Regions from separate parts of the Homo sapiens genome. Here all the other regions are reported to be linked to region 1. The links are microRNA targets in miRTarBase. Many come from high-throughput screens and were not tested one by one. Region 1 holds a microRNA gene; each other region holds the end of a gene's coding sequence.

What was found. The annotated mature microRNA hsa-miR-588 reads UUGGCCACAAUGGGUUAGAAC and lies in region 1 at 1,510-1,530, opposite strand. An mRNA with a match to its seed (bases 2 to 7 or 8) in the 3' UTR can be bound and repressed. Matches are read on the target gene's strand: a 7mer-m8 pairs with bases 2 to 8, a 7mer-A1 pairs with bases 2 to 7 and ends in A, and an 8mer does both.
Region 2: miRTarBase lists SKI as a target of hsa-miR-588. Seed matches in the 3' UTR shown: 7mer-A1 at 693-699.
Region 3: the mRNA of CCDC90B is a reported target of hsa-miR-588. Seed matches in the 3' UTR shown: 7mer-A1 at 3,033-3,039.

The regions. Positions count from the first base shown.
Region 1 is chr6:126,481,932-126,486,175 of GRCh38, reverse strand. It overlaps MIR588 (microRNA 588), which reads right to left and starts at 1,545; the gene lies at 1,463-1,545. It also overlaps a transcript of CENPW not described here.
Region 2 is chr1:2,306,252-2,310,482 of GRCh38, forward strand. SKI (SKI proto-oncogene) reads left to right here. Exons shown (of 7, transcript NM_003036.4): 7 at 326-3,962. The coding sequence ends at 514. Among named protein-coding and RNA genes, the nearest start is that of SKI, 80 kb to the left of the region's middle. RefSeq lists an enhancer at 403-1,036.
Region 3 is chr11:83,258,238-83,262,481 of GRCh38, forward strand. CCDC90B (coiled-coil domain containing 90B) reads right to left here. Exons shown (of 9, transcript NM_021825.5): 9 at 844-3,729. The coding sequence ends at 3,674. It also overlaps a transcript of ANKRD42 not described here. Among named protein-coding and RNA genes, the nearest start is that of CCDC90B-AS1, 26 kb to the right of the region's middle.

The DNA of each region.
Region 1 (4,244 bases):
ATGATTGATTTCCTTGAATATTGGTATCTTTGTTTAGGTTTCTCTGTTATTATTCCTTTGAATAAATTTTCTATCCCTACCACTATTTCTATCTGCCCTATTAAGGCCAGTAACTCTTAGATTCGCCTTTTACAGGCTGTTTTCTAGATCCTGTAGGCATGCTTCATTTTTTTTATTATTTTTTCTTTTGGATCCTCTGTGCATTTTCATGTAGTCTGTCTTCAGGCTCACTCATTCTTTCTTCTGCTGGATCAATTCTGCTATTAGATACTCTGATGATTTCTTCAGTATGTCTATGGCATTTTTCAACTCCACAATTTCTGCTTACTTATTTTTAATTATTTCAATCTCTTTGTTAAACTTATCTGATAAGATTCTGAATTGCTTCTCTGTGTTACCCAAATTTCTTTGAGTTTTCTCAAAACAGCTATTTTGAATTTTCTGTCTGAAAAGTCCTCATATTGCTGTTTCTCCAGGATTTCTCCTTGGTGCCTTATTTGGTTCATTTGGTGAGTTCATGTTTTCCTGGATGATCTCTATGCTTGTGGATGTTTATTGGTGACTGGGCATTGAAGACTTAGGTATTTATTGTACTCTTCACAGTTTGGGCTTCTTTGCATCTATCCTTCTTGGGAAAGGTTTCCAAGCATTCAAAGAGTGTTGGGTGTTGTTATCTAAGTTTTTGGTCACTGCAGCCATATCTGCATTAGGCAGGGCTTTTCCTGTGGCTCTTGCAGACTTGTAGAGGTACTACCTTGGTAGTCTTGGTTAAAATCCAAAAGAATTCTCTGGATTCCCAAGCAGAGACTCTTGTTTTCTTCCCTCGCTTTCTCTCAAACAGAGTCTCTCTCTCTCTCTCTGTGCTGAGCTACCTGGTGCTGGGGGAGGGGGTGACACAAGCCTCTTTGTGGCCACCATCACTGGGGCTGCAATGGGTCAGATCTGAAGCCAGCACAGCACTGGGTCTCACCCAAAGCTCATGGTAACCACTGCCTAGTTACCATCTGTGTGTACTCAAGGCCCTAGAGCTCTACAATCAGCAGATGGTAAAGCCAGCCAGGCATTTGTCCTTTCCCTCAGGGCAGTGAGCTCCCCCAGCCCTGGGTGGGTCCAGAGATGCCAGCTGGGATCCAGGGCCTGAACTCAGAAACCTTAGGAATCTACCTGGTGCTCTATTCTATTGCAGCTGATCTGGCACCCAAGCCACAAGAGAAAGTCTTTCCCACTCTTGCCTATTTCTTCCACAAATAGAAGAGTCTCTCCCCTTGGCCACCACCAGCCCAGGCTTGCAGCAAGTACTTTCTGGTTACTGCTGATGTTCACCTAAGGCCCAAGGACACTCCAGTCAGCTTGTGGTGAATGCTGCCAGGCTGGTACTCTCCTTTTAAGGCAGTGGGCTCTCCGCTGGCCCAGGGCAGGTCTAGAAATTCCATCCAAGAGCTGAGGCCGGGAATTGGGACCCCTTAGGCCCAATTTTGGCCATGGTGGGTAAGAACACAATGGAATAGTGTTCTAACCCATTGTGGCCAAATTGGTACCTAAGCTGATTTTCGGTTCTCATGAAGGTGCTTTTTTATTTAAATAGTTGTTCAATTTGGTGTTCCTGTGGAGGGGACGACCAGCAGAGACTTCTATTTAGCCATCTTGCTCCATCTTCTCCCCTAAAAATTGTTTTTAAATGAAGGTACAATAAAGATATCTTTGAAAACAATGGCTGAGAAAATTCTTCACCACAGACCTGTGCTAAGGAAATAAAAACTAGGTCTTTCAGCTAAAAAGAAAAGGGTCCCAGTTACAAGCAAGAAGATGTAATAAGAATTGAAGTAAATATTTTGGGCAAGAAAGAATATTGATAATTATTGATCTAATCTTTCATTTCAAAAAGCTAGTGGCAGAAGAGCAAGTACAAAGAAAGTAGATGAAAAACAGATAATCAATATAGCCCCAAAAGTCAATTCACTAGAAAATAGGCACACAAAAAAAATAACAAAAGCAAAAACTTTAAAAATATTATTGTGATATATTAATATATTAACATTATATATAACTACAGGTCCTACAGAATTTAGAAGAAAATAAAGGACATTACTAACACTTTGATGCTGGTAATTTGGAAAAAAAGGACAAATTACTTGAAAAACCACAAGTAATAATTCACAAAAATAAAAAATATGAACACTCCAATATCTACTAAAAACATGTAATTTTAAGCTTTTCTTACAAAGAAATCTTTAGACCTAGATGACATCTCTGGAAAATTCTTTCAAACATGTAATGAAGAGAAAAAAATACATTCTAACAAAAAATTATCCAGAAAACAGAAAACAGAGGGAAAAATTTCTTAATTTACGAGGCCAGCATAACCCTGATGCCCAAACCTTACAATAACAATGTAGGACTGGAAAAGTATAGCCCAATATATTTCATTAATCTAGATGGAAAAATCCTACCCAAAATATTATCAAATTCCACCTAGTAGTGTATTTAAAAATCATAGGTTTTATATAAAACTAATTGGAGTTTTTGCCAGGATTGGAAGTTTGGTTTAATATTTTAAAAATCAATCAGTGTAATTCATCAAATTAGAAAAAATAGAAAAACTTTATGAATATTTCAAAGGAATGTGGAAAAAAGCATTTAGTAAAATTTTACATCTGTTAATAAAAGAGAAAACCCATTTGATGATTTTAGTATATTCAATAAAAAAGCTCTTAATAAGATTCTACACTTGTTCATGATTTGTTTAATTCAGTAAGTTAGGAACAGGAGTGTATTTTCCTAATCTGATAAAGAGGTCTACTAAAAATATATAGTTAATGGTAAAGTTTTAATGCAATTGAACAAGGATAAGGAAATAATATCAATTATCAGCACTTTTATTCAACATTTCACTGGAGTTTCAAAGCAGTTCAATAAAGCCAGAAAAAAATATAAATTTTCTGCAGAAAATTTACAAGAATCTACAAAAAAATTAAAAATAAGAAAATTTACAAATAAATGTTTCCAATAATCAGTCACCTCCATTTCTTTATACTAGAAATAACTGAAAAATGAAATTTAATTAAAAAGCAAAATCATTTATAATAACATCTAAAAGGGTCCACTACCTAGGATCACATATATAGAAACATTGCAAGGCTTTTTCCTTAAGGACCATAAAACATTGGTGAGAAAAATTAATATCAAAATAACTAAATAGATATACTCTGTATATTGACTGAAAGACACAATATTGATAAAATGCCAATCTCCCTCAAATCAACATAATCTCTATCCAAATCCCAGCCTGTTATTTTGTGCAAATTGACAGTTTTATTCTAAAATGTACATAGAAATGCAAGGACTTTATATAGTCAAGAAAATATTACAGAAGAAAAACTAAACAGGAAAACTTATACTACCAAATATCAAAGCTTTTATAAGGCTAAAAATAATTAAGATGGTGAGGAAATAATACAACAAAAGGTAAACAAATGAAACAAATTAGAGAGTTCAGAAATACACTCACTCAAAAATACTTAGCTGGTTTTGATAAAACACTATTGCAATTCAATGTATAAAGGATGTCTTTTTGATAAGTGGTTCTGGGTCAATTGGCTATCCATATAAAAATAAATTAACCTAAATCCATACATAATATCATGTATAAAAATCTTATATTTAAGGACCATCAAAACCTAAATGTGAAATATAAAACAAGACTTTCATAGGAAAATATAGAACATTATTGTCATGATGGGTGCCTCTTTCTTAAACAGTATATAAATAGCACTTACCATAAAAGATTGAAATATTAAACTTTTATTATATCTATCTGACAAAATAATAATATTAATATATGTAATGCTTATAAACCAGGTATTATACTTGCTGGAAGGAAAATTGTACTTGCTGGAAAGCACTTATCTGGCTTTAGAACATATTTTATTAAGCAGACCATATTTACTCTCAGAAATGTTGCACTGGGAAAATCAAACTTGATCAAACAGCCCAAGAAAATGATGATATCCAGTAAAATTAAGAAACCCAGCACAAACAGTGTCTATACTCTGAAATAAAAATTCTCTACCACAAAAGAAGTTATTCCTGAATTCTAGAGCATTTCCTCTAGCATTTTGGGATGTTTTTGATGAGTATGGAAAATAAATACAACACAAAGAAAAATGGGCAAAAGGCTTCAAAAATGAACTTCACAAAGTAATATATCCAAATGATCAATAAGCATGTGGAAATAAGTTCAATAT
Region 2 (4,231 bases), not on the chromosome of region 1:
TATGCGGGTGGGGAGACTGAGGCACGCAGCACGGTGGGCGTGGAGCCGCCGTGGGCCCCGGTGGCCAGTCCTGCCCAGCCGGAAAGGCCTTGGAGCAGAAGCCAGGCCCGGGACCACGTTCCGTGCGTGCCCCCCCGACGGGCACAGGGTGGGTGGTTGCTGGGCCCTGCGTCTCGTGAGCCTGTGTCCTAGCAGGTGGAGGAGGGGCCGGCACGCGGCACTGGGGAGGGACAGGGAGCGGCGCAGGAGCCTCGGGTGGGGGAAGCAGCGTCGGGCCGGGGCAGGGCAGCGAGCAGGCGCCGCTGACCACTCGGCTCCCTTTCAGATCGAAGACCTGCAGGTGAAGCTGCAGCACGCGGAGGCGGACCGGGAGCAGCTGCGGGCCGACCTGCTGCGGGAGCGCGAGGCCCGGGAGCACCTGGAGAAGGTGGTGAAGGAGCTGCAGGAACAGCTGTGGCCGCGGGCCCGCCCCGAGGCTGCGGGCAGCGAGGGCGCTGCGGAGCTGGAGCCGTAGATTCCGTGCCTGCCGCCGCAGCGCCGCCGACAACGCGGGTGCAGGGGGGCGCGGCTGGGCGGTGCAGCTCCGCCCGGCTCCGCCCCTGCAGCCCACACAGCACAACGTCTTACCGTGCCTATTACCAAGCGAGTGTTTGTAACCATGTAGTTTTGGAACCCACTGCAAAATTTTCTACTGGCCAAGTTCAAGTGAGTAAGCCGCGTCCCCCAACTACAGCTGGAGACGGGGCCAGCTCGGCGGCCTGCTGGTCCTCTGCTTGCTGGAACATTCTAACATTTACACTTTTGTTATAAGCTATTTAAAACCAGTAAGGAGACTTGAAATTCAGAAAATCAACACATTTTTAAATGACTAACTTCTAAAAGCCCCAACACATGACGCCATCTGAAGACCCGCAACGGAGTGGGGGTGGCGGCCGCCCCACCCTCCCCACCCGGGGAAGCCATCACAGCTCATCTGCCCGCGGCTGCGTGAGGACAGCAGGGGTTTTTCTTCAGAGTCTATTTTTTCAGCGACAAGGACCCAGGTCTTCCTGCTGCTGCCAGGGAGAGCAGGGACAGTGCCGCGTGCGAGATGAGCTCGAACACTGCCCGCCTTACTGCCGCCTACCCCGCCCGCCACGCCGCCGTCGATGCCAGCGCTGTCCCCACGGGTACCAGGAAGTGCAGAGCCGCACAGGAGCTGCCCCGGAGCTGAGGGGACGGTCTTCGGCTCCTCTGCACCCCGTGATTCTGCCCACGCTCCTCCACCACGAGGCACTGACCTGCGTCGGGTGGTGACCGTGGCTGGCGGTCACGCCCTCAGCCCCTCCGGGCACACGTGCCGCCTGACCGGGCGACCCTTTTCAGTTCGGCAAACGTCGCTCCCTTCATTTTGGGACTGAGGCTGCAGCATTGGAACAAAAGAGCATTATTTCAATTTTTCTTTCTTTTTTTTTGTTCGTTCATTTAAACGTATATTTAGAACTGCACTTTGTCCACAACCTTCCCTTCTCTTTCTATTCCCCAGTGAACTGAGGTTTTTACCGATTTATAGAGCAGTCAAATCCGAAGTGCTCGAGTGCTTAGAAACCCCCTCTGGTGCTTGGTTGAACAAGGGAATCACAAGAAAACGAAAATGCAAAAACTGAACTTCGGGGGTCGTTCTGTGCCTTCCAGCATCTTGTACAGCAAATCCTGACTCGTGTCTTTTTACCCCCAAGATATCTGTCTTCAGTAGCGACTGAATCTGCCACTCTCAGAATAAGTTCCTTGCATTTATTCCAAATAATCTCGTTTACTCTCACCTGTTTATGCAAATTGTATAAGGTTTCTTATGCCCAAGCTTGAAAAATGATTTCCCAGTAGACAAGAGGCGGCTACCTATCCTACAGTTACGGTATTTATTTACATAAGAAGATCTTACAGGAGTTCTTTGCTTGAATCCGTTCTAACACCCGCGGCAGCTGCACGCGCTCACAGAAGGTGGAGGTTACTTGCCCAGGTACAGACGACCTCGGGGCAGTGACGAGCAAAGACCAGAGACTGCTGAGCCCTCGCATCTGGGTGGCGGAATTGCCTGCGGGGTTTTGCCCTTGGTTTACTGAGGGGGGTCTTGGTTGCTGCTGAAGCCCCCCACCCCTTCTAAAGTGCAATGCAAAAGGGACATCATGTATATGCAGCGTTTGTTTGGAATTTTCTTTGCTTTTGTTTTCTTTGCGGTTGTTCTGTGTGCATGGATTCCACACCTCTGCCGTAGGTAGATCCGTCAGCGGGCATTATTACCGTGTCTTGTAAAGGGTCGGTTTTGTTATGCAACATGCAGAATGCTGTTTTTAGCCTTGTTTTACCAGAGTTGTTTTTTTTTTCAGTTATTTCTTCAAGGGAAACTAAATGATTTAGTTGGAGCAAAGCTTTAAGTGTGTTGGCGTGCTTCTGTGTGGCTGTCCTGTGTCGCCAGGTCGAAGATCACAGTGAGGTAGAGGCCCTGCCCCATCCCCAGGGCCGCCAGGCTTGCTCCGTTTGCTTTGAGTTTTTAGACCCCAGAGGGAGATGAGCTTTTCCAAGCTGTGTCTGGGCCAGAGCCTCTCCTTGCCCTTGCTCCATCCCGACGGTCACCGTTGGGTCCACGCCTCCACCGCCCCATCTTGCCCCAAACGGAAAGCGCTGTATCTGCAGTGGCAGCCCTTCCCCACTTCGGCTCTGGGAGGGTCCAGCCAGTGTCACCTGGGCCCACCCTTTCCTGCAGCTGCCAGGCCCGTGCGGTCAGTGGGACCCGGACGTGGGCAGGCGAGCTCGGGACCCTCCCAGGCAGTTCCCACAGCTCTTGCCTCGGCTCACCAGGGTCACTTCCACTGTCAGGGGCCTGAGGGGGCAGCTGTGGCTGCAGGGCTGCTCTGGACTGAGGGGTCCCAGGCCCCGAGGGGTGCACGCCTGGCTCCCCTTGGCACAGGTGCGAGTCCGTTTCTTTTCAGCAGAAGGGGGAAGAGGTGTCCGCTGTGTGGGCTGCTGACTCCTCTGTGTGTGAGGCCCTTCATCTAAGTGATTGTGTATTCAGTTTAATTCTCATTATATTTCTATACTGAAAGAAGATTTTTAACGAAGGGAAAAACAACAGCAATAACATTCATATCTCTGGAGCAGCTAACTCATACACGTAATGTCTGCTTTTCGTACAGAACTAGCCAATGTAAAAACAGTTCACCTGTAAATACTTTTTCCTTTTTCACCGTTGTATTATACATGTATATGCTGGGTCCTTTTTCAGAAACTCTTTTCTTACCTGAGAGTTGTCTTGTTTTCTGGGCTGTTTTTAACTGAGGAAAAAAAAAATGCTTTCCTGCCGGGGGGCAGGGGAGACGGAGAAACCCATGTGCGTTTCCCATGTGACCCCCTCCTCCCTGTGGGTCTGAGCCCCGGCCCCCCCCACCTCCTCCTCCCTGTGGGTCCGAACCCCGGCCCCCCCACCCCCTCCTCCCTGTGGGTCCGAACCCCGGCCCCCCCACCCCCTCCTCCCTGTGGGTCCGATCCCCGGCCCCCCCCACCCCCTCCTCCCTGTGGGTCCGAACCCCGGCCCCCCCCCCACCCCCTCCTCCCTGTGGGTCCGAACCCCGGCCCCCCCACCCCTCCCTCAGCCCACCAGGGTCCAGGGAGATGTTCGTTCTCGCTTTAAGTCAGGAGTCACAAATGACTTTTTTTTTTCAATTAAGGAAAAAGCTCCATCTCTACCTTTAACATCACCCAGACCCCCGCCCCTGCCCGTGCCCCACGCTGCTGCTAACGACAGTATGATGCTTACTCTGCTACTCGGAAACTATTTTTATGTAATTAATGTATGCTTTCTTGTTTATAAATGCCTGATTTAAAAAGAAAAGAGCTTGGCATATTTATCTATTTCGCTGTGTACCTGTTAGTCCTTCCCCGACCCCGAAACAGATGACATTGTACAATAAAGGACTTTGAGAGGACCGCGGGACAGCTGTGCGTGCGCCCACCACAGCCCCTCCCCAGACCGGCCACACACGGGCGGCTGGGACCCCCTCGCTTTCAGGCCATCGTGGGTGGGGGTGCTGTCACAGGTCAGATTGTGGGCCTCGGAGTCTCCGTCGACCCCGAGGGCACGTGGGGTCCAGGCGGCCGCCCTGGCACAACTGCCCTCTCACCTAGTCCCCGTCCCCTCTGAGCTGGGCAAGGCCACGGTTTCCTCTGCGATTCAGGGAGCTTGCAGTCCCTGCTT
Region 3 (4,244 bases), not on the chromosome of region 1:
TGGATCTTGTTACAGCAGCTAAATTAAAATTATAATACAATTCCCAAATTGTGTATATTTATTCATAAATCATATACCTATATTATTGACACATTTAGGTTAATGAAACAAAAAAAAAAGGTTATTAAAGAGATTTAAGTTATTTTGTTCCTATGACTTAGTAGATTGTCCATCTCATGAGAAAGAGTACTCAGGTTGAACCCTACTAGTATATTGAGTGACAGCATGAGAGGGTGAGATTTGGAGTTAAAGACTTGAGTCCCTGTGACTTACTTGCTGGGGGACTGTGGACAAGTTACTTCACTTGGCTAAACTTGTTTCTTCAGCTGTAAAATGAGGATACCATCTACCTAAGAGGAGAGCTGTGAAAATAGGTGAGCACATATATGTTATTTAGCATATTTGCCCTCATATAGTCAATGATAGCTATTTTTTTTCAAAATAGCAATCAGTAGTTTCAGTGATAATGACTACAGCCTTTCCCACTGCCCTTTTTTTAAATATTAAAAAATACTTAAAAAATAAACAAGTGTTACATATCCAAATTCTTCAAGTTTGACAACATTATAAGCTTTTAATTGTTTTTCCAATAGGTGAGGGTTTTTCCTGACTCTTGCCAAGTCCTTACATACTCTTGCCTGGCCTATTTTGTCACCAAAGCAGTATGGATAGGCAGGTTAGGATCTACACTGTGGCTATAAACATGGTGAAAGTAGCTAATCCTTGTGGAGGCTTCTTACCACTCATAGAAAATGCCTAAAAGGTGTATTACGCTCACTCAGTATGAATGCAGTATTTTCAGCATACCCATAATTAAATATTTAAAATATTAAAAAGTTTGGATTAAGGTCAACTGAGATTTATGAGTATCATTTATTCCACAGGCGTTTAACAAGTACCTCACATGTGTCTAGAGGCCTTCTGAGAACTTGTAGTTTAGTGTAGGAAAAAGATACGTATAATTGCTGTTTCATAGTGAAGTGCAAGTGCTGGAATAGAGGTATAGTTTTAAGGCATATAGAAACACAATCCTCTCATCCTTATTTCATATATTTCCATCACTGAAACAAAAATTTACCTGAACCCCAGAACCACCATCAAAATGAAGTTTCATGGAAAGGATATAGGATCTAAAAGTAATGGGGACAGGGTATGGTATGCATATTTCTATTCTTCTGTTATTGGATACAAAGCACTTTGTTTGCTAAACCCCTACAATGAGAAAGAACGCAGATCTATTTAATATTTAGTGGCTGTATAACCTGGGAATAAGTATATTTATTTGTTGGGGCTTGAGAAGGTCCAATAAATGGCATACCTCCTTTCCATTCTGGGTTGTGAATATAACTAAGATGAAGAATGAATAAACTAATATAGAGGCCTAAAAAACACCTTTATTTGCTGATAAAACTATTGGAGAAGTTTTTTTTTAGGAGACAGGGTCTCATGTGTTGCCAGGCTGGAGTGCAGTGACTATTTATAGGTATGATCATGGTACACTTTAGCCTTGATGAACTCCTTGGCTCAAGCAATCCTGCTGCCGCAGCCTCCCAAGCAGCTAGGACTATAGATGTGTGCCACTGTGCTCAGCAAGAGAATATGGGTTTCATCTTAAGGCCAGTAAGCTTCTTATCACTGAACTCTAGAACTGGACAGATTTACCCTGTCTCAAGCATTGCTCTACTGGGCCAGGCCTCATCCTGCAGAGGCAGAGCCTGATCCCATAGAAGCAGAACAGAATGAATGTCTCTTCAGATGGGCTGGTCCCAAACAGGAGTGGGGAGGAAGTGGGCTAATTGCACCTTGTTTCTCCTTCCAGATTTACAATTGGGCAAGTCACTTTACCTAGGGCAGAGTGGATAAGGGGATGAAGAGTGACGACAGTGTTATGCTACTGGAGCTTCCTTCACATGGAGGAAAGACGCATTCCCTCTTAATATTTTAGAATATTTTAAATCTTAACAAACCAATAATTTACTTGTTTATGTCTCTCTCCTTAAGATTGTCAATTCAATGAGAATGAAACCATGTTCATCTCTGTGCACACAGGGACTAGCATGCTGTTTGGCATATAGCAGGCAGTCATATTGGTTAACTGAACAAATGCAGTATACTTTGTTACAGTGGACTTTAATATATATGGTAACTTATTAATTGACTCAGTGAAAATTAATCTATAATATACTAAGAACTCTCTTAGGCAATAGAGATAAAAATGAATCAGAATGTAACAGGATAATGTCAAGGTTTTTCTTTTGAAAACAAACCAGCAGTTAGATTTTTGAGGAAAATATAGTTGGAAAGCCTGACTCTCACTCACTGGACCATATGGACCAATCTCTTGACTGCTCTATACTGCAGATTCCCTGTTTATAGCTAAACAAATGACAAGGCTATTTTGAATAATGATTGTCAAACTTTTATAGCTATTACCAAGGCATTATGAACTCAAAATGTTTACTTTCTGGTCTTGTCTTCTTGATCTGGGTAAGACTGAAGAACTAAGATGAAAAGGATATTTTAAAATTTCTTTGAAATTACATATGATTTACTAATAGATATTACTTTGTAAGAAAAAATATATCTAATAACAAAACAAAATACGAATTTAAATTTTCCTATGAGTTTCTTGAGAGTAGGTACTAGATATCAATGTTTGCTGAATTGAAGTCATTAAGAAAAGCTTTGTTTTATGTAATAAATTTAAGATGGGTTAACTTAAACTACATTAAGAAGCAGGGATAAACTGGTTTTTGAGTATCAAATATTTAAAAAATACATGTAATAATCAGAGCTCAATATTTAGCAACTCTACAGATTTCATATTAAGTGTTGTAATTTGCACTAAAGCACACATTTATTTATTTAGGTAATGGAGTCTTGCTCTGTCACCCAGGCTGGAGTGCAGTGGTGCTATCTCGGCTCACTGCAAGATTCTCCTGCCTCAGCCTCCCGAGTAGCTGGAATTACAGGCATGTGCCACCATGCCTGGCTAATTTTTGTATTTTTAGCAGAGACGGGGTTTCACCATGTTGGCCAGGCTGGTCTAGAACTCCTGACCTCAAGTGATCCACCCGCCTCAGCCTCCCAAAGTGCTGAGATTACAGGTGTGAGCCACCGCGCCTGGCCTATCATTTTAAAATTTATTGTTTTAGTTCATTACCAAAAAGAAATCAATCTCCAACTATATGGTAAGTCACTTTGAAAACCCACACAACTTTGTTGTAATAATCTTTCATTTTATAGAAAAATGTAATTATGCAATGGTTATCAGGAAAGTTAATTCAGTAATAAATATGTAGGCTAGGGAATGGTTTACAAATATTCAACCAATACCCACAAAATCCTGTATGATTTACACAACTGTTCAAGCAAACATAAGAAAACTCTGGTTCAATTTCTATTAACTATCAAAAGGACAAAATGCTCTTCTATCTCAAACCAGGTCTGAGTGACAGCTTTTCAATATAATAAAGACACACACCTGCACTCACACACACACAATAAAGACACAGTATCTCTTCTCATTCTAAAACACTTCCTCTTTTAGTCCGTATACACTTCGAATAATCTTGTGTAGTAAATTTTTGCTGCAACTGACAATGTTCAAAGTAAATCTCTCCCGGTTTGGTGTTCTAAGAAGCCAACAGCCACAGCAGGATGAGCATTAATACTACTTCCAGAATCTATAAAATCCCAATGCTATTGCCAGGCAAGTAAACACCGAAGCTGTGAAAAGAAGAAACTGTGTTATAGGTCTTGTATCTGTAATTATTTTGCAGAGATAAAGAGAATAATGTTATCTTTAAGTGAAGAGCAAAAAACAGGAAATCCAACCAATTTTCTATCCTATGTTTTTTATTCCCTAGACAATTAAGTATGAAAGACATTCTTAAGGGCAGCCTTAATGCCTAATTCTTCTTAAAAGCACCTGTATATTAAAATGTAAATTATGTCATTTAGAAACCTATAACCTGTATTTAAAATCATTAACGCTAGCATTATTGACTACTTTAAATAATTATAAGCTCTAATTTCAGATCTCATGATAAATGAAATCTTTCTTATATTAAAAAATTACGTAGTTAGGCTAGTAAAATATACATATATCTGTGAGAAGAGAATTTTAATTGCCTTTTCAGTACATTTTTAAATAATTTCTCATAATTCTTAATAAAATTTTAATAAAAACTCTTTAAACTCAATGAGGTAGAAGAAAAGGCAGAAAAAGCATTAGGTTTTTA